Regions from separate parts of the Homo sapiens genome. Here all the other regions are reported to be linked to region 3. The links are microRNA targets in miRTarBase. Many come from high-throughput screens and were not tested one by one. Region 3 holds a microRNA gene; each other region holds the end of a gene's coding sequence. Distances are from middle to middle.
Evidence for each region. Region 3 holds the annotated microRNA hsa-miR-484 (UCAGGCUCAGUCCCCUCCCGAU, at 3,224-3,245, shown strand). A microRNA usually pairs through its seed, bases 2 to 8, with sites in the 3' UTR of a target mRNA and lowers its output. Matches are read on the target gene's strand: a 7mer-m8 pairs with bases 2 to 8, a 7mer-A1 pairs with bases 2 to 7 and ends in A, and an 8mer does both.

Region 1 (6,396 bases), 4.5 Mb from region 3:
CTCTCTCTTTTAAAAAAGACATTAGGAAGAAATTAATTGGGCTGGGCACGGTGGTTCACACCTGTGCACATCCCAGCACTTTAAGAGGCCAAAGCAGAAGGATTGCTTGAGCCCAGGAGTTCCATACCAGCCTGGGCAACGTAATGAGACCCCGTCTCTACAAAAAACTTTAAAAATTAGCCAGGTGTGGTGACACGGGCCTGTAGTCCCAGCTACTCAGGAGGCCGAAGCAGGAGGATCACTTGAGTCCAGAAGGTTGAGGCTGCAGTGAGCTATGATCATGCCACTGCACTCCAGCCTGGGTGACAGAGTGAGACCCTGTCTCAAAAAAACAAAAGAAATGAAATGAATTGTGACCTTTTAGAGTTCATCTTGCCCAGAGTCTTGTGGGGAGAAATGCCGGTGTGTGCTTTGAAATCCAGTCTGTCTCTCGTGCTTTCGCTCCGTGATGGGAGCTCTCTTCCTCTCCCTCTTCCCTTTCTATATGCTGCCTGCTTTTATTTCGTTCTTTGTTTTTCCATTATTTTGCTTTATGTTCCATTTGCTCTTCTGTTTTATTTTGGCCTGACTTAAAAGAGAAAATAAAAAACTAAACTGGAATCACGTTGAACAAAAAAAAATTCTACCATGCTTCCCGGGTCCCAGGCTGCTGTCAGACTCTTAGCTCGATATAGCATCGTCAGCACCTCCCGCCATGGCTTGGGGACCCCCAGCTCTGTGCAAATGAGAATTTGCCTCCAAGCAGGATGCCCACTGTCTTCTTCTCAATGTTTTTAAACACCCGGCATCTGAAGTGCTGGAAGATGTTTTCCACAATGAATTCCAGCTGCATCTGGTGTTTCTGTTCAGGCAGGCTCATCACTGGAAGGCAAATGGGCCAGCATGTGTCTGTAGGATTTTGAAAAGGGCCGGGCACGGTGGCTCATGCCTGTAATCCCAGCACTTTGGGAGGCCGAGGCGGGCGGATCACTTGAGGTCAGGAGTTTGAAACCAGCCTGGCCAACATGGTGAAACCTCATCTCTACAAAAATACAAAAATTAGCCGGATGTGGTGGCAGATGCCTGTAATCACAGCTACTCGGGAGGCTGAGGCACGAGAATCACTTGACCCCGGGAGGTGGAAGTTGCAGAGAGCCAAGATCATGCCACTGCACTCCAGCCTGGGCAACAGAGTGAGACTCCGCCAAAAGAAAAAAAAAAAAAAAAGCACCAAGGAAAGAAATTGCTGCTCCAAGAATAACTGCGTTGGGTGGAACCTCACCTGCCTTGTCCTGGCGTGGTTTCTCAGTGGCCCCTGCCGGGAAGCTCGGGACAATAATGGCCTGAGGAACCACAGCAGCCCCTTGGTGGGTGCTGGCTCAGCACTTTGAGGAGGAGGAGGAGGAGACAGGCCAAGGTTTTGTTTTGGTTTTGCAAGCTGAAAAGTTCTACAGAATTTCCTTTTTTTTTTTTTTTAATATTGCAGTGGGTTCCCTCTTGGGTAAATGTCATCAAATGTATACTCTGGAAATGGCCTGATATTACGAGCACACCCAAGCCCATTTACTTCCCAAACAAGTATTTATCATCAGGCAGGCCTGAGATTTGCCCACACATAAAGCCTGTCAGCTGGGTCTCTGCACCCAGGAACTGTGCTTTCATAAGCCACATGCTGATTTTGCACAGGCCCTGAATTTTCCCCTCATATCACAAGTCAGGGTAACCCTAGGCCCTGCTGTATTTTCCCCAGGCCTAAGTCAGACTGGATTTTGCAGGTTCTGTGTCCCCAAAAGGAGTGAGTGGAGCCACGCTGAGCCCTCACGCCAGCCAGCCACCTCCCACCTAGCTCACCAGGGCCGCGGTTCAGGATGGGAGCACAGGGCGCAGTGCGACGGGGTGTCTCAAGGGCTCAGTGTGTTTCCGGTTTTTCTCCCCCAATCCAGATGCCCCCATGAGTCCAGAACTGCCTAAGCCTCACCTTCCTGACCAGTTGGTAATCGTCAACGAAACGGAAGCAGACTCTAAGCCCAGCAAGAACGTGGCCAGGAGCGCAGCCGTGGAGACAGCCAGCCTGTCCCCCAGCCTCGTCCCTGCCCGGCAGCCCACCATTTCCCTGCTCTGCGAGGACACGGCTGACACGCTGAGCGTCGAATCGCTGACCCTTGTCCCCCCAGTTGACCCCCACAGCCTCCGCAGCCTCACCGGCATGCCCCCGCTGTCCACGCCGGCTGCCGCCTGCACAGAGCCCGTGGGCGAAGAGGCTGCATGTGCTGAGCCTGTGGGCACCGCTGAGGACTGAGTCAGTGCCGGGGCCTCCCTTTGTGTGTGTGGCCCCGCTGGTAGGGACCCCAGTGCCGCTGACTGGCAAGACACACTGGGAGCACCCACCATTCTGTGCGGCCCCCAGCAGCCATCTCAACCACCTATCCCTGCGCTCCCTTGAATGGGAAGAAGCCCCACGTTGTCCTTGAATTCCTTTTTCACTTTGCATCTCTTCACGTGCAGGCTGGGACCAGCGGAGACACCGCGGCGAATGCAGATGACTGCACCGGCCACTCAGGGAGCTGCCTGGGCTCCGTGTCTCTGAGCCCCGGGTGGCAGGACCCACCGGCACCTCTTTCTTCCTCTGTCATATGGCTCCTCTGTCACCAGCCCCAGTGTGCACAGAAGAATTGGACCAGGTCACTGTACGTAGAAATTTGTAGAAAAGCAGACTTAGATAAACATCTCCTTTGGATATTTATTTCCGCTTTTGGCAGCAGGTGAACATTTATTTTTAAAACTTCTATTTAAAAGAAGTCCAAAAACATCAACACTAAGGTTTGATGTCATGTGAAAAGTGTAATAATAACAGTTAAGATTTCATGATCATTTTCACTGGACCTTTCCTGATATTTTGTTTCAGAGTTCTTAGTGTGGCTTTTTCCATTTATTTAAGTGATTCTTTGTTACTCACTAACTCTGCAAGCCTGTGGAATAATGAAGTACCTTCCTGGAAAGTTTGGATTATTTTTTAAACAAAAACAAGGGAGATACATGTATTCTCAGGTACACACAGAGCTGAGAGGGCTGAATGGTTTTCTGCTATAGCAGCCGAGAGGCCTCCCATCATGGAAAGATTTCTCCAGGAAAAGGAGGAATGTAGCCAGCTCCCCACTCAGGACGCTTCCTCATTTCTCTTCACCAAAACCAAACAGAGACAGCTTCCAGCACCTTCTTCAGTGTTACCATCTCTAAGAAGGAACCAGTTGGGACCGTGAAGACTCCCGACCCTGTGGCCATGATGGAAATCAAAGGAAGACACCCTCTACGTCACCTGCCCTCGACTGTGTGTGCCCACATGTGCCGAGAGATGGCCCAGAGCCAGTTCCCCTCCAGCTGCAAGGGCATGGTGTCCCCAGAGCTCTGAGTCTGTCACTCTCCCTCTGCTACTGCTGCTGATCTGAATATGGAAACCCCATGGTTCCCTTCCCCATTCGGACTGGGTGTGTACAAGCAAGGACCCAGATGCATCAGACACAGCCCCCAAGATGTTCCTTTCTACTCGGCCAGCTCGGGAGCCAGACACAGCACTCACAGCCCAGGCCGTGATCCACCCTCCCCAAGTCCACCAGGGCCAGCGGCCCCTCACCTCTCTGGTCACTGGTGAGACCTTCCACAACTTTCCTCCAGACCTGCCAGCAGATGTGCCCACCAGGGGCATTAGGTATCCGCCGGAGCCTGGCCATAGGGTAGTCTCGGGAGCCGCGCTGAGATCTTTTGCCACCTGCATTTTAGAAGAACATGGTCTCTGTCTCCTCGGCCCAGCCAGCTGTCCCGGCAAGGCCTGCCGAGGGCAGTTTTCAACCTCATGAAGGAAACACAGTCCTGCCAAGGAGGGGGAGTGGCGCCCATGGGGACAGGCCTCAGTCCTTAGAAGCCCTCTGGGTAGCTGTGCCCACCCAGCCTTCATGGCTGCAGGTACAAGGACCTTTGCTTCCATAGAGAAAACGCACAGCTCAGAAAGGGGGCCACATGGGCAGAAACCCAAAGGAAGGACAAACCACGACCACCGTGGCCATCTGCAGAATCCCTGGAAGAGAAGGAAGGCAGGGTGGAGCGGGGGGAAGACCATCATGGAGAGAAGGACCACAGCATCAGGAGACGGGACACGCCACACCCAGCAGGCAGCCTGTGTGTTGCTTAATTTTTTAAGAGCAAGAGGGGTAGAGAGGATCAAGCTGGCCCTGGCTGGAGATGGCTAGCCCCTGAGACATGCACTTCTGGTTTTGAAATGACTCTGTCTGTGGGGCAGCAGAAACTAGAGAAGGCAAGTGGCTGCCCCACCCCAAGGCGTGACCAGGAGGAACAGCCTGCAGCTCACTCCATGCCACACGGGTGGGCCACCAGCCTGCTGTCAGAAGTCTCTGGGCTCCAACTGGTCTTGTAACCACTGAGCACTGAAGGAGAGAGGTCTTGGTCAGGGCTGGACAGCATGCCCGGGAGGACCAGCAGAGGATTAAAGGTGACTGGGAGGACCAGCGGAGGATAAAAGACACTGCTCAGGGCAGGGCTTCTACCCTGCATCCCTGGCCAAGAAAAGGGCAGTCCCCATGTGGGCTTGCAGGGTCACTCTCAGGGGCCTCTTTCAGCTGGGGCTGGCAACTTGCGTCTGGGGGACACCTCCAGGTGTGTGGGGTGAGGATTTCCTATAACCAGGGCTCCCAGAAGCTTTGCTTATGTAAGGAGGTCTGGGAGCCAGCCCATTGGAGGCCACCAGCCATTTTGGCTTCAAAGGACCCCACCTCACCCAGGTCTCAGCGGCAGTGGGCACAGCTATGTCTTCAGGAGCTCCCGTCAAACCTCATAGCTGGGGCGCTCCCAGACAGGCCAGTCCAGACAGGACACGCTGGGCCCCTGGCATCCAGAGGAAGAGCCAGGAGTGTGGGAAGGCCCACAGTGGGGGCTGTGGCTTCTGACACTCAGGTCATAGCCTCAGAGGTCTGAGGTCAGCCCCCACAGACCCATCCGGCCCGCCCCCCAAGTCCCTGCAGAGAGCACTTAGAGTTATGGCCCAGGCCCTGGTCCACCCTTCCCCTGTGCACCTCCGGCTGGGTTTGCCAAGTCAGGGAGCAGGGCTGGCCGCAGGAACTCCCAAACCTTGGCTTTGAATATTGTTGTGGAGGTGTGCTCGTCCCTTTCTGGACGTGCAAGGTACCTGTCCCAGCAGGTCAGATGGGGCCAGCTGAGGCGCTCCCCCAGGCAGGAAGGGCCAGCCTTCACCATCGCGTGGGATTGGGAGGAGGGGCCTCCGTGAGCAGCCCCTCCTCTGCCGCTGTCCCAGCCCAGTCCCTCTCCCGGAGCCTTGGCAGCCTCCCACAACCCAGACACTTGCGTTCACAAGCAACCTAAGGGGCAGGTGAAGAAGCGCAGCCCTGCCAGACGCGCTAGATTCCTCTAAGGTCTCTGAGATGCACCGTTTTTTAAAAAGGCGTGGGGTGAACTGATTTTGATCTTCTTGTCTAGATGCAATAAATAAATCTGAAGCATTTAATGTAGTCATCTTGACATTGGGCCTACACTGTACGAGTTCCTTATGTTTCCTTGAGCTAAAAATATGTAAATAATTTTTGTCCCAGTGAGAACCGAGGGTTAGAAAACCTCGATGCCTCTGAGCCTCGGGACCGCTCTAGGGAAGTACCTGCTTTCGCCAGCATGACTCATGCTTCGTGGGTACTGAACACGAGGGTGGAAATGAAAACTGGAACTTCCTTGTAAATTTAAACTTGGCAATAAAAGAGAAAAAAAGTTACCAAGAATGTAGCGTGCTGCTCCTGGGGGCTGTGGCAGGAGGCCGTGGCCTGGCACAGGGGAAGGTTCCCAGCCAATGACCCCTCATCCCGGCGCAGCTGCTTGGCAGGGGTGTGGTGGCTGGAGCCCCTCCCTCTCCCTCCTCCCCGCACCAGGTTCCCTCCCATCCCCAGGTTCCTAAGAGGTTGTCGGGGCTCATACAACCCGGGAATAACTGCTAAGGGGCAGTTGGCACCATCAGGAAATGTCCCCGCCCTACCCCTGCCGGGTACAGGGAGCGTGGTCCACATTCTGCATCTTTTCCCTGTTGGGCAGGTGGCTGCCCATCCAAGCCTCAGGCTCTGCATCTGTGGATTTGGACAGCCAAGCCCTACCTCGCAGGACAAGCGTAGCGAGCAGCGTCATTGTTGCCAGGCTGGGCCGAGGGAAGCAGGAAGGCTCCCCACCGAGGACAGAGGTGAAGTGCGGGGGTGGACATGACTCGGAAACACCAACGTCCACCAGCGTGAAACCCTGAAATCCCTGGAAACAGGATCACAGGTTCTCAAAATCTCACCATCCAGCTTAAACCCTACCCAGAAATGGCAGGGAACTTCTGGGTCTTGAGAGGATAACCAAGTTGAGTCG
Region 2 (6,396 bases), not on the chromosome of region 3:
ACTAATCTAAGAAGCCCATCTTTGAGGGCCTGTTACTAGTAACCACTTTTGGAACCAAATACTATATTAGCCAGGATTCAGTAACTGCAGGAAACAATACTCCTCTACCAATTTTAAGTGGAAAAGGATTCAACACAGGTAAATTAGGTGCTTACAAAAGCACTGGAAAGCCTGGGGAACATGGCCATAGGCTGGGCCTCCAGGCGATTCCCAGACCTGGAATTAGCCTTCCATGTGAGCTGCTACCTCTGCCACCATAGGGGAGATGAGCAATTAGGAGGCCACTACAGGTTGACTACAAGAAAACATATCGCAAACTGCTATCTATGGATCCAGACACCCTTCAACACCCACAAAGCTACTGATGGCTATTAGAATGCAGTTAAAGAGAAACCTAAGGTCTCTACATCTTGCAGGAGCAATAGCCAAAGTAGCTAAAGATAACCCCTGAATCACTCCTCCTTCCACATCTTGTTTGTGCATCTAACTGGCAAAACTTGACCTTAGGTTACATTCAGAACCTTGGTTTCAAGGAAATCTAAGACATGAAGTTTTTAGTTTTCCAGCCTCTGCAGCATACGAAGGTACATTAGGTGAGCATAAATGAGTATTCATTTACCATATCCACAAGCTTCTTCACATTGGCCTGTCCAAGTAGTACTAGTGATCAGACATGCCCCTCCCAGTTTCAACCTTTTTGAAAGCTGGCCGCAAGCACTGCATCTGTCTGGCGCTGAAGATTACCTCCTCCTGGCCCAAAGAAATCTAAAATTTCCTTGTCTTCAGAGTTGTTTGGCTAATCTACACAATCTTGCTCCAGCTGTCTTTGACCTAATCCACTACTCTCCCCACCTTGGTCCACTTTGTTCCAGCCATATAGGCCTCTATACTATGCTTTTTTGGAAACAGACTAAGGATGCTCTACCAAAGGGCCTTTGTAGTTTATTCCTCATGTCTGGTATGTGCTTCCCCTAGATATTCACATAGTTCTCTTCCTTGCTCCATTAAAGTCTCTAATAAAATGGAACCTTATCAAGGAGGACCAACCTGGTCATGTCAAGTAGCACTATCTACCACTCTGTCTTCCCTGTTTTTCTTCACAGATTACTTATCCTCACTCCAGGTTATATATCTGATTGCCTTCCCCCGTTAAGAGTCTAAGTTCCATGGGGACAGGAACTTTGTATTTTAGTCATTGCTACATCTTATACCTGAAATGCGGTAGGTATTTCAGAATGAATGAAGGCTGTATGAAGAGGAAATTAAACTTTCTCCATTTTCTAAGCTATTATTATTATTTTTTTTTTTTTGTGAGACGGAGTCTCGCTCTGTTGCCCAGGCTGGAGTGCAGTGGCGCAATCTCAGCTCACTGCAAGCTTTGCCTCCCGGGTTCACGCCATTCTCCTGCCTCAGCCTCTCGAGTTGCTGGGACTACAGGCGCCCACCACTACGCCCGGCTAATTTTGTGTATTTTTAGTAGAGACGGGGTTTCACCCGTGTTAGCCAGGATGGTCTCGATCTCCCGACCTTGTGAGCCGCCCGCCTCAGCCTCCCAAAGTGCTGGGATTACAGGCATGAGCCACCACGCCCGGCCAAGCTATTGTAACTTTTCTAATGCATTATTTGTGTTCGCCTCTAGGTGGTGATGATGGGCCTTTTCATCTACTAAAGTGTCGCTAAGGATTAGAATAAATTTAAATTTTTCATAGCCTCTGGCCTAGAGGTCTAGGCTTCCTTTCTTATATGATATCTAAAATCTCCTTTAACTCATTTCTTCTTCTTCCTGCAGGAGGAAAAAACATGGGCCTTTACCAAAAACATTTTCAGTATACCATCTCAGTCTTCACAACCCCTTAACTAGGATCATCATCTCCATTTTGGCTAAGTGAAAACAGACTCAGAGTAAACTGCCCAAATCTCACAGCTGTAGTAAGTGGAACCCAGATAAGAAATATAGGTTTAGCCATAAACTACTGCCCCTCCAACAGACTTCTTTGATTTTATCAAAGAAGTGAATTGTTCTCTCGAGGCTTCAAGAGAATTCCAAGTTTTGAGTTGATAATTTGCGTTTCAGAGATCTCCAGGCTGTCTGCCTCTTTTTCCAACAAGTTCTCTTTTTCACACAAGTACACGCCCCCTTCAGGGAACATTCTTCCAGAAATCCAAAGTCCACTAACAGCATTTCCTGTCCTAGGTGCAGGGAAATGTGTGAAGTCTGGCTGCAGTGCCCAAGAGATAAGAATCTTCTAAGCTGGCTGTTGTCCAGACTTGCCATCCTCATTGTAGTAAAACACTGGCCAGGAAGACAAAAGTGCATCTGTGAAAGGAAACAGAAAGTCATCTGGTCTTCAGGGAAAGGAGGATTTCAATTTTTCCTCTGGGCCCAGGACTAAGGTGAGAGAGGTCTGACACTGGAAGCTCTTTAAATGCAATCTGAGGGCCGGGCGAGGTGGCTCATGCCTGTAATCCCAGCACTTTAGGAGGCTGAGGTGGGGGGAATCACTTGAGTCAGGAGTTCTAGACCAGCCTGGCCAAAATGGCAAAACCCCATCTCTACTAAAAATACAAAAATTAGCCGGGTGTGGTGGCATGCACCTGTAATCCCAGCTACTTGGGAGTCTGAGACTTGAGAATCACTTGAACCCGGGAGGCTGAGGTTGCAGTGTGCCAAAATCATGCCACTGCACTCCAGTCTGGGGGACAGAGCCAGACTCCGTCTCTAAATACATAAATAAGATCTGAAAGTTGGGGAAGTTAGGGGCATGAAACTGACTCATACAAAGTAAGTCACTCTAAGATTTGGAATCTGACATCAGGTTTCACGAGTCTTCTAATTTTCTTGCTATACTGTATATAAGCTTTCACTTCTAAGGACATTATTTTATTTTGTCAGACGGAGTCTCACTCTGTCACCCAGGCTGGAGTGCAAAGGCGCGATCTCGGCTCACTGCAACATCCGCCTCCCGAGTTCAAGTGATTCTCCTGCCTCAGCCTCCCGAGTAGCTGGACTACAGGTGTGCGCCACCACGCCCAGCTAATTTTTGTATTTTTAGTAGAGACGGGGTTTCACCATGTTGGCCAGGATGGTCTTGATCTCCTGACCTCGTGATTCACCCGCCTTGGCCTCCCAAAGTGCTGGGATTGCAGGTGTGAACCACTGCGCCCAGCCCATTATTTTATTTTTTATTTTATTTTTGAGATGGAGTCTCCCTCTGCCTCCCAGGCTGCAGTGCAGTGGGTGATGTCAGCTCACTGCAACCAGCACCTCCCAGGTTCAAGCGATTCTCCTGCCTCAGCCTCCCGAGTAGCTGGAATTACAGACACATGCCACCAGGCCTGGCTAACTTCTGTATTTTTAGTAGAAACGGGGGTTTCACCATGTTGGCCAGGCTGGTCTCGAACTCCTGACCTCAGGTGATCCACCTGCCTCAGCCTCCCAAAGTGCTGGGATTACAGGCGTGAGCCACTGTGCCCGGCCAGGACATTATTTTACACAGAGGCAAAACTCCAAGTAGTACAAACTTAGCTCAATTTTGACAAATTTGTAAGATCAGATAAATATGTTCAGAGATTTTGAGGGCATACCCCCTCCTTTCATTACAAATCTCAGATTTTAGTCCCTTTTATTTAAACCAGATTAGCAAAACTGAGAAAGTTTATCAGAACACGGAGTGGTATACCTGAGAACACAGCAAACACCTATGTCATTGCTTTGTGATTATGCGCATCAGTGTATTTCTTCCTCCAATAACAGAATATTCTGTTCTCCAACTTGTAACCATGCAACATTCACTGAGAACTCTTTTTTTTTTGAGACAGGGTCTCTGCCACCCAGTCTGGAGTTGCAGTGATGTCGGCTCCCTGCAACCTCTGCCTCCCCAGGCTCAAGCGCTTCTCCTGCCACAGCCCCCTGAGTAGCTGGGATTACAGGCGTGCGCAACTACCGCCTGGCTAATTTTTGTACTTTTAATAGAGGCGTGGTTTCACCATGTTGGCCAGGTGGGTCTCAAACAGCTGGCCTCAAATGATCCACCTGCCTCGGCCTCCCAAAGTGCTGGGATTACAGGCGTGAGCCACCATGCCTGACCACTGAGAATTCTCTTAAGAGCTACCTGGGACTGCCACTCCTTCTCTCCTCTGAAGCATATGACTACTAGTGACTATAATGCAGAAAAGGGCAAAGTTTTAAGAGTAAATTGCACAGTTGCTTCTAGAGGGCAAACAAAGTTAGTTTTAATCTACTGCTTCCCTATTCAGCTGACTCAGCTAATAATTCTTCAGCCTGACTACAAAGTCCAAAACAAGCCTAGCTTTGCTTCCTGTCATGCTAGGAGTCATAGGTTTATAGATGACTACTGCGGTTGGATTTGAATACAATCCTTCTTCCCTTGGATTAGAAAAATTCAGGTCTAGAGACTGTCAAAGATGGTGCTTTGTTTCAAACACTTGGCTCTGTGGGACTATCCAAGCCAAGGAAAATGAGGTAAGTTGAATTATGACAGAAATCTTTATTAAAATGTGTCTTTCAGTAATATGTTTAGCATTCAATATACACACATACATATGTACACTCTTTGACACACCTCATGGATTGCTGCCATCAGTTTAACCAATAAATTAAAACTAAAAAGAGGGAGGGGAGGGGAGGGGAACTAACGGCAAACTTTTCATGTTTTATCTGGTAAGAAATTGTGAATTTCTCAGAATTTCCCTGGGCAAAAACCTGTGACCAGAGAATCTGTGAAATAAAATACATAAATCTCTACCCCTTGGAAAAAAAAAAAAAAAAATTCCAAAAGATGCAGTTACAAGTGTGCTTCTCAGAACAGGAGCATTCATTCCACTTCATACTCTGGCTTCTCCACCTTCTGGCTTCAAGACAGTTTGTCCCTCGGCTAGGGCAGAGAGGTTCATATGGGCACTTGGGCTCGGTGCACCTTGGGCTCTGGGGGTCGAGGGGCAGGCTGCAGTATGGGAGCGGGGGGAGCCACACTCATCTGAGGTGATGTCTGGCACATCGTCTGACTGTGCATCAGAACTCTCTAGGTCACTGCGGATGCTTTCAGGCTGGGCCAGGCTGATGTCCCAAGGTTTGCTGGCCAGGCAGTCTTTCTGTTCACAGCTTTGGTGTCTGCAGGGGGGATCCTCTTCACTGCCTCCGCCACCACTACCTTCTTCTTCATTCTCTGCCATCTGAGCATGAACATGGAGCGAGTCCTCCGTGCTGCTTCCACTCACCAGCTGATAGTGGCTTGGTTTGGCTTCAATGTCCACTTGGATTTCCATATTGTTGCATTCTCTGTGGAGACAAAATCCACTTTGCTGAGTCATGCATGGATCATGCTAAACCTGTTGGTAAAAGCAGTTCATGGGTTCAGGATTAGGAATTTCAAAAAGATAGGTGAACAGTTAACTAGAGCTCACTTTTAACAAAAATAACATTTTAATCTAACACTCAAATGAGATGGAGGCTGGACGTGGTGGCTCATGCCTATAACCCCAGCGCTTTGGGAGGTCGAGGTGTGAGGACTGCCTGAGTCCAGGAGTTTGAGACCAGCCAGGGCAACAAAGTCAGACCCTGTTTCTAAAATAAAAAAAATTAGCTGGGCATGGAGGCACGTGCCTGTAGTCCCAGCTACTCGGGAGGCTGAGATGGGAAGATCACTTGAACCCAGGAGTTCAAGGCTGCAGTGAGTTATGATTGTGTCACTGCACTCCAGCCTGGTTGACAGAGCAAGACCCTGTCTCTAAAAAAACAAAAATAAAAATAAATGAGATGGAGAAGAGTAATTAGATCCTTTTTGCTGATTTAACTATACATGCACACGTGTGCTCAGATGCACACACACGTGTATCTCAGCCAATCTCTTTAAACATACAGAAAGAGCTTCCAAAATTCAACTAAGGGTCAGAGCCCCATGCTAGCTTACTCAAAATAGAAAAGTAAAAGCTTTTTACTACCATGCCACAAGTAGAAGAAGCCAGAATACCTACTAGTGGGAGTACCACAATCACACCATCCCAGATACACCAGTTTCTCAAAATGAAAGAGAAAGAAGCTATGGGAATCCTATCAAGCAAAGGGCAAGCAGAAACCCTAGACTTGAAGACATCAATGAACATCAATCTAGCTCTTTAAGTTCCATGTAATTATACACTGTTGCAATAGCCAAGAAAGACAAAAAAAAAAAAAAAAAAAAGAAAAAATACATAAAAGGAAGAAAGAAAAGAAATCTCTAAAAATCAAGCGCTAACAAGAAGAATCAAGAGATGCCAAACACTCAAGTACCAAGAACTTGCTCAAATGAATTCACAGGTTACACTATATATCCCAGGAGATGGTACATACAGCCCTAACATGAGGCATTGAACTTCTGAAGACCTAGTACCCAACGA
Region 3 (6,396 bases):
CTCAGGAAAGTCAAAAGTTAACAGAAGAGAGCATCTAATCTGAGTAAAAGAGCCACCACCACATCCTCATTGACAACTATATGTAAGATTTTAAAATTGACTTAAGAGCAACTTCTTGCACTGGTTTCTTGATCTGAGCATGAAAAGTCCAAACTAAGTGGCCTCTGTGGACTTTGAATTTGATTTGCTACAGAACAAATTGAACCAATTTCTTAGTTTACTAATGATGAAAGTGCAATCTGATATACCACCAAAAATCTAACTGATAGAAAAATCTCAAGTCGCAGATGTGTTATATCTACGCCAGAGCAACAACACTCTTACAGGTCTTAACAATAAATGCAAGCGAGGCACCGTGGCTCAGGCCTGCAATCCCAGCACTTTGGGAGGCCAAGGTGGGTGGATTGCTTGAGCCCAGGAGTTCCCAACCAGCCTGGGCAACATGGCAAAACCCCATGGCTACAAAAAATTAGCTGAGCGTGGTGGTGCATGCCTGTAGCCCCATCTACTCAGGAGGCTATGGTGGAAGAATCACCTAAGACTGCGTAGTCAAGGCTGCAGTGAGCTGTGATTGCACCACTGCACTGCAGCCTGGGCGACGGAGTGAGACCCTGTCTCAAAAACCAACAAACAAAATTACATGAAATTAAAATGTCAGTGTCCATAAATAAAGTTTAATTGGGACACAGACACACTCATTCACTTAAATACTGCCTATGACTGCTTTTGCATTCCAATTGCAGAGTTGCAAAGAGAGTCTCTGCAAAGAGACTGTATGGCCCACAAAGCCTATATTTACTACGTGGCTCTTTTGTCAGCCTGGGCAATATAGCAAGATCACAGCTCTAAAATAAAATAAAGTTCAAAAAATTAGCATAGTGTGGCAGCATGCGCCTAGTCCCAGCTACTAGAGAGACTGAGGTAGGAGGATCTCTTGAGCCCAAGAATTTGAGGCTACAGTGAACTATATTGTGCCACTGGCCCTTCAGCGTGGGCAACAGAGTGAGATTCCATCTCTAAAAAAATTTTTGTTTTCAAGTTTCTGTTTCCTCCTATGCAAAATGTGGCTAATTTCTCCCCGCCACTGCATTACAGAGAAAAAAAAAATTAGATAAATGAACCCCACTGTCTATTTTCACCACTGTATCTCTTGTGCCAACCAAAATGCTCCCTACTCTGTAAATACAAAGTAAACATTACCTACTACACACTATTGGGAGTGGTTAATTTGGAGATGGATTTAACTGCTACCACTGATAGTAAATTACGATTCTTGTCTTTCCTATTAGATACAGGTTTTATGTCCCCCAAAAAACTCCTCTCAAAATCGTAAGAATCTGTGATATTCACAGTGTTCATAACTTAAACATTCTCTCAAACTTCTTCAAAGCCAAATCCTGAAAGTGAGCTAACATTCACAGTATAATCTAGTTTATAAAGTATTTTCACTTAACATTACTTATGTCTTCATTCAGCAAATATTTACTTAGTATCTACTATGCAGCAGGCCTGTGCTTGGCACAAGGAATATAATGATGAAAAAAACCCAGACGGTGGGATCCTCTTATATAATTTTTGCAATAATCCTGTGAAATAGACAGGGGAGAAATTAGCTACATTTTTGCAGAGAGAGAAAAAGAAACTTAATGAAGTTTTGTAGCGAGCCTGACACAAGATTAGGCTTGTTCACCCCTTTCCACTACATCAAGGTGCCTTCAATACTGCTCAATACAAGCGATTAAAAGTAAAAACTTTCAGGTGCCTGCACCCTGAAAACTTCCCAAATACCATCCACGAAGCAACTTAGGTAGCCAAAAGCAGGTTCTGTTTGACTTGAGCGACAGTCTCCTTTCTGTCACTCTCTTCAAGTCTTTTGACCAATTCAATGAGGAGAGCATAGGCTCTGTCGACTGTCTGCATTTTGGTCTCCAATTTGACTGCGGTGCAGCTTTGGACAACTCACAACCTCTCTGAACCTCAGATCCCATCTCTAAAATGGGTGTGATAATAATAGAAACCACCTTACAAGGCCGTTGTTTGGATTACATGAGGTAATCCACGGGGAACATTTAGCAAATGTTGTTTCCTTAGCACCCAATCTAGTCTTTGACCCCACACCACCCCATCCCATTACCGTTTTCTCCCCCATAGCTCTTCTGTCCAAAACGGCCTTTTTAGCTTATTTTATTATCTTTCTCCCCCATTAGGCTATAAACTCCATGACAGCAGAGACTATGTTTTCTTATCCACTATTCCAACTCCTGTCCTTAGTACAATGCCTGGCATATTTTAATAAATAACTGTTGAACGAATAAAGCTTAATAAATAGGAAAACAGTTTAGGTTTCAATACACCGATATGCAAAAGAGAAGAATATTTACCGCTCAGAGAAGTCCAAAAGACACAAATGCAATTGGACAGCTCTTGGTAATACCGGAAAGGTGCTTGAGAAACTCTAAAAGGTGTATCACGAGGTCGCGTTACAACTACTAGTGAGAGTGGCTGAAGCCCTAGACATTGTCAACCCTGAGACTACACCCTATGTGTTGCTAAAAGGCCGAGGAGAATGCAAAACGGCCGGGGAGGGGGGAGTGTGTTGCAAAAACACCCGCCCCTTTCCTTCTCTCTTAACCTTCCAGCTGTGCACTTCACTCCTGGAGGGCCCCACCAGGGGTCAGACAGGGGCGGGCGGGGAGCCAAATGCCCTCGAAGGGGAACAGCGGCGCCAACAGTGACAGTAGTGAATGGACCCGAAAGGGAGACAAGCCAACTCTTTCGTGGGGGGCCCAACTGGCGCGTCCCAGTTAGCTAACCTCCCCTCTCCACCACCATCCCACCAGCAATAGGCGGGGAAAGAGGGGACACTGTCCTCCGTCCCGCCCCGCTGGCCTCGGAGCAGAGCCTGCCGGGGTCTGGTCGCAGGACTGTCTGCAAACTCACCTCTGCCGCCGGCTCCACCTCCGCTCACATTCCGGCCCCGCCGCCTTCCCCCCGCCCCCCCCAGGCCCTTTGTTTTGATTCCCGACTCCGCAGCTCCCGCCGCCGCCGCCAAGCGCACCCTTCACTTCCGCTTCCGCACCGCACCGCCCCTGTCGCAAAACCGACGCCCTTCTCTCCTCTTCGCCCCGCCCCTTCCTCGCCCCGCCTCCGCCGCCGCGTCCTGTCCGCGCGGGGCATGCTGGGAACCCCGGGGGGGGCGGGGCCTCGCGGCCCTGCAGCCTCGTCAGGCTCAGTCCCCTCCCGATAAACCCCTAAATAGGGACTTTCCCGGGGGGTGACCCTGGCTTTTTTGGCGAAAACCCCCAGTTTAAGGAGGCCTTCCCCCTGGCTTCACGTTGTGGAGTCGAAAGGAACCTTGAAGCGGAGAATGAGCTCGTGACGTGGACCCGAGGAAAAAACCTGCCAACCAGGATTTAATAGAATTCAGCTCTTTCAGGCTTTGGAGGGAAGGCGATTTGAACGGGATTTCAATGAAAAACCCTGTCCCTTCGGCTTTTTTTTTTTCCTCTCTCGGGTCTCGTCACGTGATGGTCCTACTTTATTTTTAAAAATTAAATGGCGCATATTCCCCAGCATCCTAAATCTAGTGCAACCTAGTGGCAAGTGGAGAAAAAAATAACTGCCAACCTGGCTTCCTACGAGGTCCCCCGGAGTTCTCGCAAAGTTGCGACCCAGTTGGCAAAAATACAGTGTGTGCAAAGACTCAACTGGACATTGCCACCAAGAATCAAGAGATTTTTGGGGACTTTAGCAAGAAAACGTTATTTTTAAAAGCCCTGCTCCAAAGCTGGTTACAAATGAATACTGCGTTTCCAGTGACAGGTTGGGCGAGCAGAAAGGAAATCTTACGGTTAGTTTCAAACACTTTGTGTTTTAGGTGGCCAGATATGCTGTGTGGTTTGCTTTAAAAAAAAAAATAGCGCCCCACAATCTTCACGTTTCCCTGGAATAAAAAAAAATTTAAGACTCAGCAAAAGGGTGATTTCTGAAACTACCAGCTGATTACTATTTTCTGTTGCAAATTAGGAAAAAAGCAAAGCACATATTGTGTAAGTTAAATCTAGACACGATTTAGGATGTGCTAGCTGCTAGCTAAATGCTACCTTAGGAGTTTATTTTTAAAGTTTGCCCAGAAACAAGTTGACTTTGCAAAAGAATCAGTAAGTCGAAATTGCCAAACGAGAATATTTTGCCCAAAAAAATCCTTACTGGGAGGTTATTTCAATAGGCAATCCCCATTACGTGGGGATTAACACATCCCTGTAAACATCCCTGTAGACGGGTATTGTGGAGGGCAGGATCAGACATGTAGCTGAAGAATCCTTTGTGCCTGTATTTAATTTTCCAGAAGGCAGATGACAAGCACACATCCTCTCCCTGCGTAGGTATTTATTACTGCTGACTAAATCTTGACTGTGGGCTGGGCGCAGTGGCTCAGGCCTGTATTCCCAATACTTTGAGAGGCTACGGAGGGAGGATCTCTTGAGCCTACAAATTTGAGACTAGACTGGGAAACGGTGAAACCCTATCACTATTTAGAAAAGAAAGAAAAAGAAAAAAATCTTCATTATGTCTGTGTATAGGTAGTATTTTCCAAGTGGAGATTAGAATAGATGAAAAACCCGTTTCTAGCGTTTTGGCTTTTTTCAAAGTACCAAACAAATACGCTACTCTTCAGAGGTGTTTTTTCCCCATTTTATTTCAGTTGAGTATGTTTCAACACAAGCCATATTAACTAAAAATCTTAAGAAACAAGGTAATTGTAGGTTTCTAATTGCTTTTTTTAAAAAATAGTTTTTAGCCAGAAAACATCAAAGAATGCAGACACATTTCCTTTTTACTTTTTTTTTTTTTTTTTTTGAGACAAAGTCTTGCTTCATTGCCCAGGCTGGAGTGCAGTGGCAGGATCTTGGCTCACTGCAGCCTCCACCTCCCGGGTTCAACCGATTCTCATGCCTCAGCCTCCTGAGTAGCTAGGATTACAGGCGCCCACCACCATGCCTGGCTAATTTTTGTGTTTTTAGTAGAGACGGGATATTGCCATGTTGGCCAGGCTGGTCTCGAACTCCTAGCCTCAAGTGATCCTCCCGCCTCGGCCTCTTTAGGATTACAGGGCTGAGCCAACGAGCTTGACCACATTTTCTTTATATGTATATTTTTCTTTTAGATTCCTTTTTACCAAGCAGACACATTTTGTTTGACTTAGCTTGGCATTCTTTCAAGTCCAAAGCTGTAACTAGTCACAACAAGTAAATGTAGTGATTGAAAATGGGCGGGGCATGGTGACTCATGTCGTAATCCCAGCACTTTGGGAGGCTGAGACAGGAGGACCCCTTGAGGCTTGGTGTTTAAAACCAGCCTGAGCAACATGGTGTGACACTTGTCTCTATTAAAAAAATTTTTAAAAACAAAACAGTCGTATTAAGTGGAAGGCTAATAAAAGTCTGAATTACAAATACTTTTAAAAGAAATGTAATTTTATTGCTGCTTTCTAAAGACTAGGAGCCTAAGCAAAGTATACCAGGCCTTAGGAGACAATTATGAATCAAAATACATAAATTTTCTCTTAAGATATATTTTAAGTATGTATCCTCTATTAATTGTATTCCTGTTTCTTTGCTGGGAAAACTTTAGAGAGTACAAGTAACTTTCAGTTTTTCCCTTGTCCAAATTATAGTCTTCACATGTATGAAAACCGAAAGACTTTTTTGTGTGCTATTTAAGTAGCTACTTTACATGCAATTCAGCTTTTCAACTAACCAAGCTGTTATTAAAGGAGTTTCTCCCCAGAAACCAATCTTCTACCTGTATTAGGTTCAGTGGTTTGAATTAATAAATGATCATGGAAGGACCTAAGGAAGTTAAATTGAGTTATCTGCTCAGCCATAGTCCAAAGCTACAAGGAAAACAAATTGAATTTAAAAAGAACAAGAAAAACATTTTAAATGTTTTTAAGGTTTTACCCAATGACAAACCTATTTCCCTAAATGTTGTTCCCAAATAGGACTTTAAGGATTATTATTTCAATGCCCTCTCTTTTTTCTTTATGGAAAATTTGGGAAATTGAGAACCAACTAGTTTAAATACCTTGATCAAAGCCATTTAGGCAACACCAGTACCTCATCAGTTTGTGCTTCGGTTTCTCTGTAAGCTGAGGTGATTAGTTCCTGTCCAGAAACGTCACAGAGTGGTTAGGGCCAAATAAAATTCCGAGGGGGGCCAGGCGCAGTGGCTCACGCCTGTAATCCCAGCACTTTGGGAGGCCGAGGCAGGTGGATCACTTGAGGTCAGGAGTTCGAGACCAGCCTGGCCAAACCAACATGGTGAAACCCTGTGTCTACTAAAACTACAAAATTAGCTGGACGTGGTGGTGCACACCTGAAATCCCAGCTACTC
Region 4 (3,000 bases), not on the chromosome of region 3:
TGGGACTTAAGTCCCAGCTCTACCTCTTAATTGCTGTGACCTTGAGCAAGTGGCTTAGCCTCCGTGTGCCTCAGTGTCTGGTACACAGTGGGCACTCAGGAAGTGTGGGCCCTTTAGGTCAAAGGAGCCTGAGTACAAAGTTCCCCGTGAGCCTGGGGATGTCTGGGCTCTGTCGGAGTCCCCTCGGGCAGCACGTGCCGTTAGCCAGCCATGTGCTCCCACAGAAATACCCGGAGCACGCCATCCACAAGGTGCTGCAGCTCATGCTGCGGCGCGGCGAGATCCAGCATCGCATGCAGCGCAAGGTTCTCTACCGCCTCAAGTGAGTCGCGCCGCCTCACTGGACTCATGGACTCGCCCACGCCTCGCCCCTCCTGCCGCTGCCTGCCATTGACAATGTTGCTGGGACCTCTGCCTCCCCACTGCAGCCCTCGAACTTCCCAGGCACCCTCCTTTCTGCCCCAGAGGAAGGAGCTGTAGTGTCCTGCTGCCTCTGGGCGCCCGCCTCTAGCGCGGTTCTGGGAAGTGTGCTTTTGGCATCCGTTAATAATAAAGCCACGGTGTGTTCAGGTATCTGTGGGTTTGTGCACTCGGTGACCTGTCACCTCCATCGTGCCCTCATGGCAGGGTAAGTGTGAGGGAACAGGGTCTGGAGGCAGACTGGCCAGGGTTTCTGACTTGGATCTGCCACTCAGACTTCTGGGTAAGTCACGTGACTTGAGTGCTCCGGTTTCTTCATCTGTTTAGCGGGGCTCATAAAGCCACTCCCTTGATGCTGGGAATCCAGTGAGACCAGGGAGTGGGGAAGCGCTTCTCAAAGTGTGTGATTTTGATCCGCCTCACCTGTTCCCCAGTAACTTATTGGGGGGCTGCGAGCCGTGGTGCGGCGGTCAGACTGCCTGGATTCATGGACCCTCTCCATGCCTTAGTTTCCTTATCTGTAAGCAGGCTGATACTAGAACCTGCTTCACAGGGTTGTGCTTAGGGTCAGTGAGCAGCTGTTAGTGAGGGGAATGTAGTGGCCACCAGGCAGGAACTAGGACTCCAGCCAGTTCTTTCCTGGTGGGCCACGTGTAACTGTGTGGCCTTGGGCGAGACATTTCACTTTTCTGTGCCTGAGTTTATCAGTAAACTGGAGATGGGGGGATTCCTCACCCTGAGTTGTGAGGATTGAATGACAGAAGGCACTAGTGACAGTGATGCTGGAGGAAGGAGTGTTGCCAAGTGCCTCGGTCACTTTGCCTAATTTCAGAAAGTCACTCTGAGTTGGTATGTTTTGTGTTTTTAAAAAAGCTAGGATTCATAAAATTAAATAGAAATCAGTGAAATAAAATATTTGATATTTAAAATACATTTAGAAATACAAAGTGTCAAGCAAAACGTGAATTTGGAAATCTATGGAACATTAGATAAGGTATTTAAAAGTAATTGCCATGTAAAAATGACACGAACTTGAAGTAAGATTATTTGATTTTTCTAAAAATACAAGAAAGCTTGGTGCATCCGCCTGGTCATTGTTGAATCACAAATGTATTTTTGTGCAGAAGATTCCTGCAGCTCAAAGCCCTTTCTGATTCCATACTGTTCGGGGAAATGGAGAGATGAGAGGAGCTAAATCAGCTTTCCTCTGACTCACTCCCGTTCAAAGCTCATTTCTTTTCTGATAATTTTGAGAGTGTCTGGAACAGCTTTTGTTTTCTTGGTGGGGTGGCAACCTTACTGGGCGCGCTGTGGGTTTTGCATCCAAGGCTGCATCTCCGGTTCCTGCTAGCCTTTCATCTTGCTCAGGTGGGGACTCGCGTGCATCTCAGGCCCAAGGTCCTCCCGTCCTGCTTGTTCATGGAGTGTGGAACTCTCATGAGGTTCACCCTGCAGTGGCAACTTTGCTGGTGGCCTTTTCTCCACCCCTGTGGTGGGTGGTGCTGCTGTGGTCACCTCTGTTTTACAGGTGGAGAAACTGAGGCTCAGAGAGTCAAGTGTCACAGTGAGGGAGTGCAGGGCAGGCTTCAAACCTGGTGGCTCCGAACTCCACCCATGTCACCTTTTCTGCCAGATTCTCTCTTGGCAGTCCCTGACCTCGGCCTGAGTGGGATGCTGGGCAGAGACAGTCCTGGCCTGGGGGAGGCAGGTGCCAGTCAGGTGGGGGAGACTGACCCTGGGGTAGGTTCCCAGGGGTAGGTGGCCTGACTGGCAGGCACAGGACTGAGAGGCCAAAGGGGGTCCGACTGGCTTTTCCGTGGTAGTTGGGGTAGGGCTCATAGGAGGAGCAGCTGTGCTCAGAGCATGCCAGTCTCCTTCCAGATCGGGGCAGCAGCATGAAGAGAGGCCCCTGAGCCAGGGAAACACCTGCTTGTTGGGGAAAGCAAAGGCTGAGGAGAGAGCCTGAAGGGAGGCCAGGAGAGGGGAGCATTCAGGCTGAGTAATAGTTGGGGCTCGGCTTAGTGGAATCTCCAGTCAGGCCTCAGTGACACCTAGAGAGGCAGGGAGGTGGGGCAAGGGGGGGAGCTGGATTCCCGAGCTGGTGCTGCCACTCAGGGTGGCTGAGCTCTTCACTCACCTGTGACCTGGCTCCCTTAGGCTTGTCTTCTCAGATCTGTCCCTACCCTCACCAGCTACAGGCCGCGACCCAGCGGACATTTCTCTCTGCTGAGCAAATCACTTCACCCCTCAGCCTCCTTTCATCTGTAGAAAGGGCACAGCAGTACAGTAGCCCTTTCACCCAGGGGTGGCTGTGAGGATTAACTGAGGGGGTAGACATCAGAGCAGCTGGGCCTGGCCCCGGGGAGGTGCTCCCAGGAAGGGCTGGGTGCCTGTGGTTTTCCCTGCCTCACAGCCTCTGCCATCTCGGATTTCACCTTTTCATGCTTTTGTGTGAGCAGAGGCCGAGCCTCTGCTGCTGTGTTCCCTGCCCCACTCTACTCCTGGCTGCATGGGTCTCTCAACTTCGCTCACCACTATGAGAGCCGCTCCACCCCTTCTCCAGTTCCAGGTCTGGGAAGG
Region 5 (6,396 bases), not on the chromosome of region 3:
ACTCGGGAAGCTGAGGCAGGAGAATCGCTTGAACCCGGGAGGTGGAGGTTGCAGTGAGCCAAGATTGCACCACTGCACTCCAGCCTGGGCAACAGAGCGAGAACACCATCTCAAAAGAAAAAAAATTGAAAGAAAATATTTTTATTAATTTCAGTTTCGTTTCATTTTTCCCCTGTGTTTTCTGACCTGGGCTGGGGGATGCTGGAAGGAAGAACACGGCCATTCCGGAGGGTCTTGGGCTGGGGCTGGGGTGCAGGCCCGTGTTGCTGAGGTCATAGTGGTGCTTGGTTGCAATGCATGTGTGACCCTATCGGATTCCCTCTCAGCCTCACCTGTCCTATGTGTGTGTGTCTGTCTCTGTCCACAGGGCGGGTTCCCGCAGTGGCAGTGGCTCCCCATCGCCGGACACCTACTCCCTCTATTGCTACCCATGCACCTGGGGAGACTGCAAGGTGGGCGAGTCCTCTAGCCGCCCAGCCCCCGGTCCCCTACCCTCAACCACACAGCCCAGCCAGGCCTCCCGGGCCCTCACAGAGCCTCTGAGCGGTCGAGCCGCCTCCCTTCTGGGGGCTGACACCCCTGTTAAGACCTACCACAGCTGCCCTCCTCTATTCAAGCCCTCACATCCCCAGAAGCGCTTTGCTCCGTTTGGAGCTCTCAACCCTTTTTCCGGGCCTGCCTACCCCTCAGGCCCTTCAGCGGCCTTGTCTTCTGGGCCCAGAACCACCTCGGGTCCTGTGGCTACCTCTGGCCCTGCGTATTCCCCAGGCCCAGCCTCGCCAGGCCAGGCCTATTCAGCTGCTCCCCCCTCCTCCTGCGCCCCCTCCTCCTCCTCTTCTTCTGAATGGCAGGAACCAGTCCTGGAGCCCTTCGATCCCTTTGAGCTGGGGCAGGGCAGTTCTCCAGAGCCTGAGCTGCTGCGTTCTCAGGAGCCCAGAGCAGTGGGGACACCTGGGCCTGGACCCCGCCTTTCACCACTTGGCCCCTCCAAGGCCTTTGAGCCTGAAGGTTTGGTGCTGCACCAGGTCCCCACCCCACTGTCACCAGCTGCTCTGCAGGGACCCGAGGCGGGAGGAGCACTTTTTCTAACCCAAGGGCGCCTGGAAGGGCCTCCTGCCAGTCCCCGGGATGGAGCCACAGGCTTTGGAGTCCGAGATGCCTCCTCCTGGCAGCCCCCTGCTGACCTGTCTGCACTCTCCCTGGAGGAGGTCTCTCGCAGTCTGCGTTTCATCGGGCTCTCAGAGGATGTGGTGAGCTTCTTTGCCCGAGAACGCATCGATGGTAGCATCTTTGTGCAGCTCAGTGAGGACATCCTGGCAGATGACTTCCACCTCACCAAGCTGCAGGTCAAGAAGATCATGCAGTTCATCAAAGGCTGGAGGCCCAAGATCTGAACTGCCCAGCTGGAGCTGCACAGCTGGAATGCTGGTATGGGGGCCCCAGGTACAGCACTCCGGAGGAGCAGGTGCTGCCTGCAAGAAGGATCTATGTCGAGACTGAGGCTGCTCAGCAGCCACTGGGTGGATCCAGGGGAGATGCATGTGGAAATGTGGTCCTCTGGGGTCAGACCCCTGCACGGGACATCTTGCCTTTGAGTGTGCAGAGTACATGGGGAAGGGGCTGGGGGCACCACTGTGTACCTGGGCCCAGTAAGGCATTTGCCGTGATTCCCACAACGGGGTCAAAAGCTGGCCTTCAGGGTGACCTAACACCACCTCATGCCCTGCTATAGACCTTCACAAACGACTTCCACTGCTGAAGCCTGTAGGCTCTGTTTAGAGACAAGAAGATGGCTGGTAATTTAAGCACCGATTTCCCAAGTGCCCACTCTCCTTTGTGCTCTGTTGGCTTTTGGCCTAAAGCTGCCCCAGAGTGAGGGTGTAGATGTCTGTGTCTGTGAGATGCCTTTCCCTTCCCCCTCTGCTCCACCGTGGTTGAGGGGGGTGGGGCCTGGCCCCGCACACAGGTGAGTCGTGTACAAGCCTAACCCATGGCACCTCAGAGGCTCCACCTGTGGGTCCTGGTTCATGGGTGACAACTTTGGAAGAGCACAGCTCTGCAATTGACCCGACCCACTTATCTAGTTAGGAAGCCAGACACTGCCCAGATGACTCTAGCACCCTGGCTTCTGCTCTGACTTTACTGCAGCTAGTCATCCATCCGTCAGGTGGCGTTCAGTCTCAGAATACTGATTCCGTGGAAGAGCAGGTTGATTTAGGTCAGCTTCTCCTTGATTCTAGAAGCAAGCGGTAGTCAACCACCTCCAATTCCGCCAATCTCTTGCCCCCATCATTTGTCTCTGACAATACTTGGTGTTTTTCCCTGGTTTTCTGTCACTGGCACAGGAGGGTACAGTTGGGAGAGTGCGTTCCTGGAGCTCAGTCCTGCATTTGTTCACGTGCCTCACAGCAGGCCTTTGTGCCCTTGAATCTCAAACATGGGGATCTGCTTGGTACCCAGAGCTCTGGTCATTGTGTCCAACCACACACCCCACCCCATCCGTGTCCTCCATCTCACCCAGAACCACAGGGTGCCCACTAGTGTCAGGGCCCAAAGTGCCAGCCTTCTCTTCTGCCTTACCTAGTCTACCTATTTATTTCCTCCACTTTTTATCTTAAAAGTAGCTAAGCCATGCTGGTGCCCATACTCCAAGCAGGCTGCCTCAGCTCAGAGAAGTGGTCAGAGAGTAGAGCACAGAACCTGTGATGTGGGGACATTTGGTTTTCTTGCAGATCATTTAATGAATCCTCAAGGACTAATGAAATAAATGCTAGACTGCTGAAGATGAGTACAAGTGGCATTCTGGGTGCCAGCTGCTTTCTTCTTTTGAAAACAAGGCCATGGGGACCCATGGGCACAGTGTATATGCCTTCTGGCAGGAGAGGACTGATGGAGGAATGATGTGGGTGTGTGGCCATTCCCATGTCTGTGGAGGCGGCTGGTGGCAGCCTTCATTCCCTTCTGCAGGGCCCTCGCCAGCCCCTCCCTACCCTTCAAGAACCCCCACCCCAGCTTCCACTAGTTTCAACATAATTCACACCTACCTGGTGTTACTGAAGGGAAAGACCCAGGCTCAAAGCTGAATGCCACCAGCCAGGGCCCAAGCTTAGCTTCCTGCATTGGCAGAATGCCGGCTTCAGGCTCTCTCAGACCAAATTTGGAAACCGGTTAATGGCTTTGGTGCAAGGGATCAGCTCCCTACTCTGGTCATCTGAAAACCTCAACTCAGAGGTGACTTGGTTTTAGAGTCTGGCTTCCTAGTGACCAAGCAGAGCCAGACCTGATCTCCTTGCCTGCCAGTCCCAGCTACAGAGCTGGGACCAGGGACATATTTGAAGTACAACTGGAGCAGAGGCAGGAGTAACTGGTAATATCTGACAATTTAGAATGCAGAATGTGATGGGACTGGAATTACGATTCCGCACACACTCAGCGTGGATCCTTCTGCCAGACCCAGTTAGCCCCAGTGCTGTTTACCCAGACTGGGCACTGCTTCTGTAGGAACTTTCCATCCCAGGGGGTGGGGTGGGGAGGGGCTGAAGCTTTGGGGGAGTGCAGGTGCTGTGGGGGTCAGCACTCCTCATGCTGCTCCCGTGCTGCCTGATTACCGCACAGGCATTTCTGGGGCAGCCCTGCTATGCAGGATCTCCGAACATCAAGGGAGATGTCAGCGCCTCTGCTTAGCACCAACGTTCCCACAACCATCCCAAGAAGCACCTATGAATGAGGCACACCCAGAAAAGAAATGGGTAAGATCACACAATGAGGAAATCCAGGCTGGGGAAAGAGGTTTAATATCCCGGTACACCGTGGTGAGAAGCCTGGGCAAAGCATCTGCACAGACAGGTGTGTGTGGTTGAGCCCACCAGGTCCCACTTTCTCTCATCCCAGTCCCTCCCTAAGGTGCTGCCTAGAATTCTGCACACACATTCTTACTCCCCCAAAGCACAGGGCTTTCTTCCAGATTGCTTTTTGAAGGAGGCGTTTAAACCAGAAGGGCAAAGATGCTGACACAGAGTTTGGTTTTTATTGTTATGTGTTTGGCTGGGTGCAGAACTGCCCTCACCACCCCTGGCCACCCTGGCCTCTTGGGAGGAACAGGCAGAGAGGTGGCTTCAGATGGCTCTTGGCTGCCACTCTAGGCCTCGGGGCTTATACAATGAGCAGTGGGCTCTACCTTCCAACAGGAAGTGCAAACTAATTCGAAGTCACACTTCACCAGGAGGGAGAGATGGTCTTGGCTGAAGGCACTTTAATCAGGGAGCAAACCCAGTGCCGGAGTTTGTCTTCTCGTTACTCTGATAAATCTAGACACCACTCTGTTGGAGAACCAGCACTGCCGGCAGCTGGGGTTAGTGCACTGACTGAGCGAGGCATGAGGCCTGCTCACTGGTAGAACTTCTTGTTAGGGCTGTTAGCATGGTCAGCTAGCAGCTGGCATGGGGTGAACTGTTTTCCATAGGCAGCTTCATATTTCTTGAGCCGGTCCACTATCTTCTGGGCGCCATACAGATCCACAAAGCGGAAAGGCCCTGAATAGAGAAAGAGGACTTCGTTGAAGGAGACGCAACACGGGCTCCAGGCTAAAGTGAGCTTCCTTCCCAACCTGCGAGACCAACCTCCCAGACAAGGCGGGAAGCCAAGCCCAAAGACGGCTCCGATGTCTCCCTCTGCAGGTGTGGCCAAGATCCCCTCTTGCAGGCACATGACTGCCTCATTCACAAATCTTGTCACCAGGCGGAACTGGATGTCTTCGTCTGATGAGCTGCCAACAGAAAGAGATGTTTAGGTAGAAGAAGAGGAAAAGGGGAGGAAAGCCAGAGCCGCAGATGCAGAATGGAAGTCGGGATGGGTGCATGGGGAGCTCTGTGGGCCGGTTGGTGCTGGCCCTCAGAGAAGATGCTGCCTGGGTGAACCAAACTTTCCCATGGAAAAAGTGGAGAGTAACTTGCCCTAATTAACATGAAACTGAGCACCTAGAACAGGGCCTGGTGCCGAGAAGATAATCAGTATCTCTTTGACATCAGCAACAGTCAGCTGCTCACAAATGATAATAAAGATCTGGGAGGGTGAAGGGGCCAAGGAGAATCTGTCCTTCCAGCGGCTCTCTGGGAACTTGCCAGAGAAGGCTGGAGCAGGGGAGGGCCTTCACCAGACGTGGCCTGGTTCTCACCTAGATGCTGGGCAGAGACCAAGGAGCACGTGCGAGGGCCTTCCACTTGGAAAGCACCATGCCAGCATCAGGAGTGGTCCTCCTGTTCAGGTATGGTGGTCACAAAGAAAATGGAAGACAGCACCATGGCACGTGTATACCTATGTAACAAACCTGCACATGTATCCCAGGACTTAAAGTATTAAAAAAAAAAAAAAATGGAAGAGGGGCTGGGAAGCTTTGGGCTGTCAGAGAAAGTCAATTTCCAGGCATTAGCCACTCAAACGGACTTACACTTCAGACTTAGGAGGCAGCTTCAGACTCGCTAAAATACTATCCATGTCAGAATTCAAATCCTTCCTCTTCACACCCTCCTGATAGATGTAAAAGCCCTTCCCAGATTTACGACCTAAAACAGGCAAGAAAAGGGAGTGTTACTATTTGTTCTCAGGGAGGGAGTGTTACTATTTGTTCTCAGAACCCTGGCCTGGCCAGGCGTGGTGGCTCACGCCTGTAATCCCAGCACTTTGGGAGGCCGAGGCGGAGGATCATTTGAGGTCAGGAGTTTGAGACCAGCCTGGCCAACATGGTGAAACCCCATCTCTACTAAAAATACAAAAATTAGCTGGGCGAAGCAGGAGGATCGCTTGAACCCGGGAGGTGGAGACGAGATTATGCCACTGCACTCCAGCCTGGGCAACAGTGTGAGACTCTGTCTCAAAAAAAAACAAAAAACAAACAAAAAAGACCCTGACCTGAGAATTCTTGTCTCTGTTGGTCTATTATAAAGCTCTGGCCTCTTCTGAATTCCTGAATTTGTATGTCTAGCTAACCCTAGCAAATTAGTCTTTGTCAGAAGAGTGGGCAGAGAAGGAAAGAAGATCTTGTGACCCGGAGCTTGGGCATCTGTGTACATGGATGAGAAAGGCCACCTGGGTGAGTTTTAACATCCCCATATGCAGCACCGGGTCCTAGAACACCCAGGTTGTAATGCTGATTTTGCTGTTTTGCCAAGACAGAAAGTCACTTCTCTGTGGGCCTCAACTGTATACTGTGTATGGTGAGCTTATACATTCTCCTCACAGGTGGCCAGACAGCATGGTAAAGCCCGGATGCAGAGCTTGCTTCTGCACTATTGCAGATTTCATCTCTGGGGGATAAAAATGCTTGTCCATCTGGCATAACTTGGACCAGGTGATGCTAGAGCCCCAGAAGGGTAGAACTCTGCCTTTTGTCCATAATCT

Region 1: the mRNA of CLEC16A is a reported target of hsa-miR-484. Seed matches in the 3' UTR shown: 7mer-m8 at 3,696-3,702.
Region 2: the mRNA of RNF19B is a reported target of hsa-miR-484. The part of its 3' UTR that is shown has no 7-base or 8-base seed match.
Region 4: the mRNA of MCM5 is a reported target of hsa-miR-484. The part of its 3' UTR that is shown has no 7-base or 8-base seed match.
Region 5: miRTarBase lists HADHA as a target of hsa-miR-484. The part of its 3' UTR that is shown has no 7-base or 8-base seed match.

What each region holds. Positions count from the first base shown.
Region 1 is chr16:11,176,413-11,182,808 of GRCh38, forward strand. It overlaps CLEC16A (C-type lectin domain containing 16A), which reads left to right. Exons shown (of 24, transcript NM_015226.3): 24 at 1,923-5,774. The coding sequence ends at 2,278. Among named protein-coding and RNA genes, the nearest start is that of SOCS1, 77 kb to the right of the region's middle. RefSeq lists enhancers at 4,296-4,455, 5,212-6,097, 6,098-6,396.
Region 2 is chr1:32,931,961-32,938,356 of GRCh38, forward strand. RNF19B (ring finger protein 19B) reads right to left here. Exons shown (of 9, transcript NM_001300826.2): 9 at 4,489-5,299. The coding sequence ends at 4,846. Among named protein-coding and RNA genes, the nearest start is that of RNF19B, 30 kb to the right of the region's middle. RefSeq lists a silencer at 2,128-2,422 and an enhancer at 2,128-2,422.
Region 3 is chr16:15,640,078-15,646,473 of GRCh38, forward strand. MIR484 (microRNA 484) reads left to right here and starts at 3,217; the gene lies at 3,217-3,295. It overlaps MARF1 (meiosis regulator and mRNA stability factor 1), which reads right to left and starts at 3,077. Exons shown (of 27, transcript NM_014647.4): 1 at 2,941-3,077. It also overlaps a transcript of NDE1 not described here.
Region 4 is chr22:35,423,930-35,426,929 of GRCh38, forward strand. MCM5 (minichromosome maintenance complex component 5) reads left to right here. Exons shown (of 17, transcript NM_006739.4): 17 at 225-1,502. The coding sequence ends at 326. Among named protein-coding and RNA genes, the nearest start is that of MCM5, 25 kb to the left of the region's middle. RefSeq lists enhancers at 1,913-2,418, 2,419-2,926, 2,927-3,000.
Region 5 is chr2:26,186,864-26,193,259 of GRCh38, forward strand. It overlaps HADHA (hydroxyacyl-CoA dehydrogenase trifunctional multienzyme complex subunit alpha), which reads right to left. Exons shown (of 20, transcript NM_000182.5): 18 at 5,447-5,561; 19 at 4,620-4,765; 20 at 3,772-4,532. The coding sequence ends at 4,387. It overlaps GAREM2 (GRB2 associated regulator of MAPK1 subtype 2), which reads left to right. Exons shown (of 6, transcript NM_001168241.2): 6 at 368-2,800. The coding sequence ends at 1,394. Among named protein-coding and RNA genes, the nearest start is that of GAREM2, 17 kb to the left of the region's middle.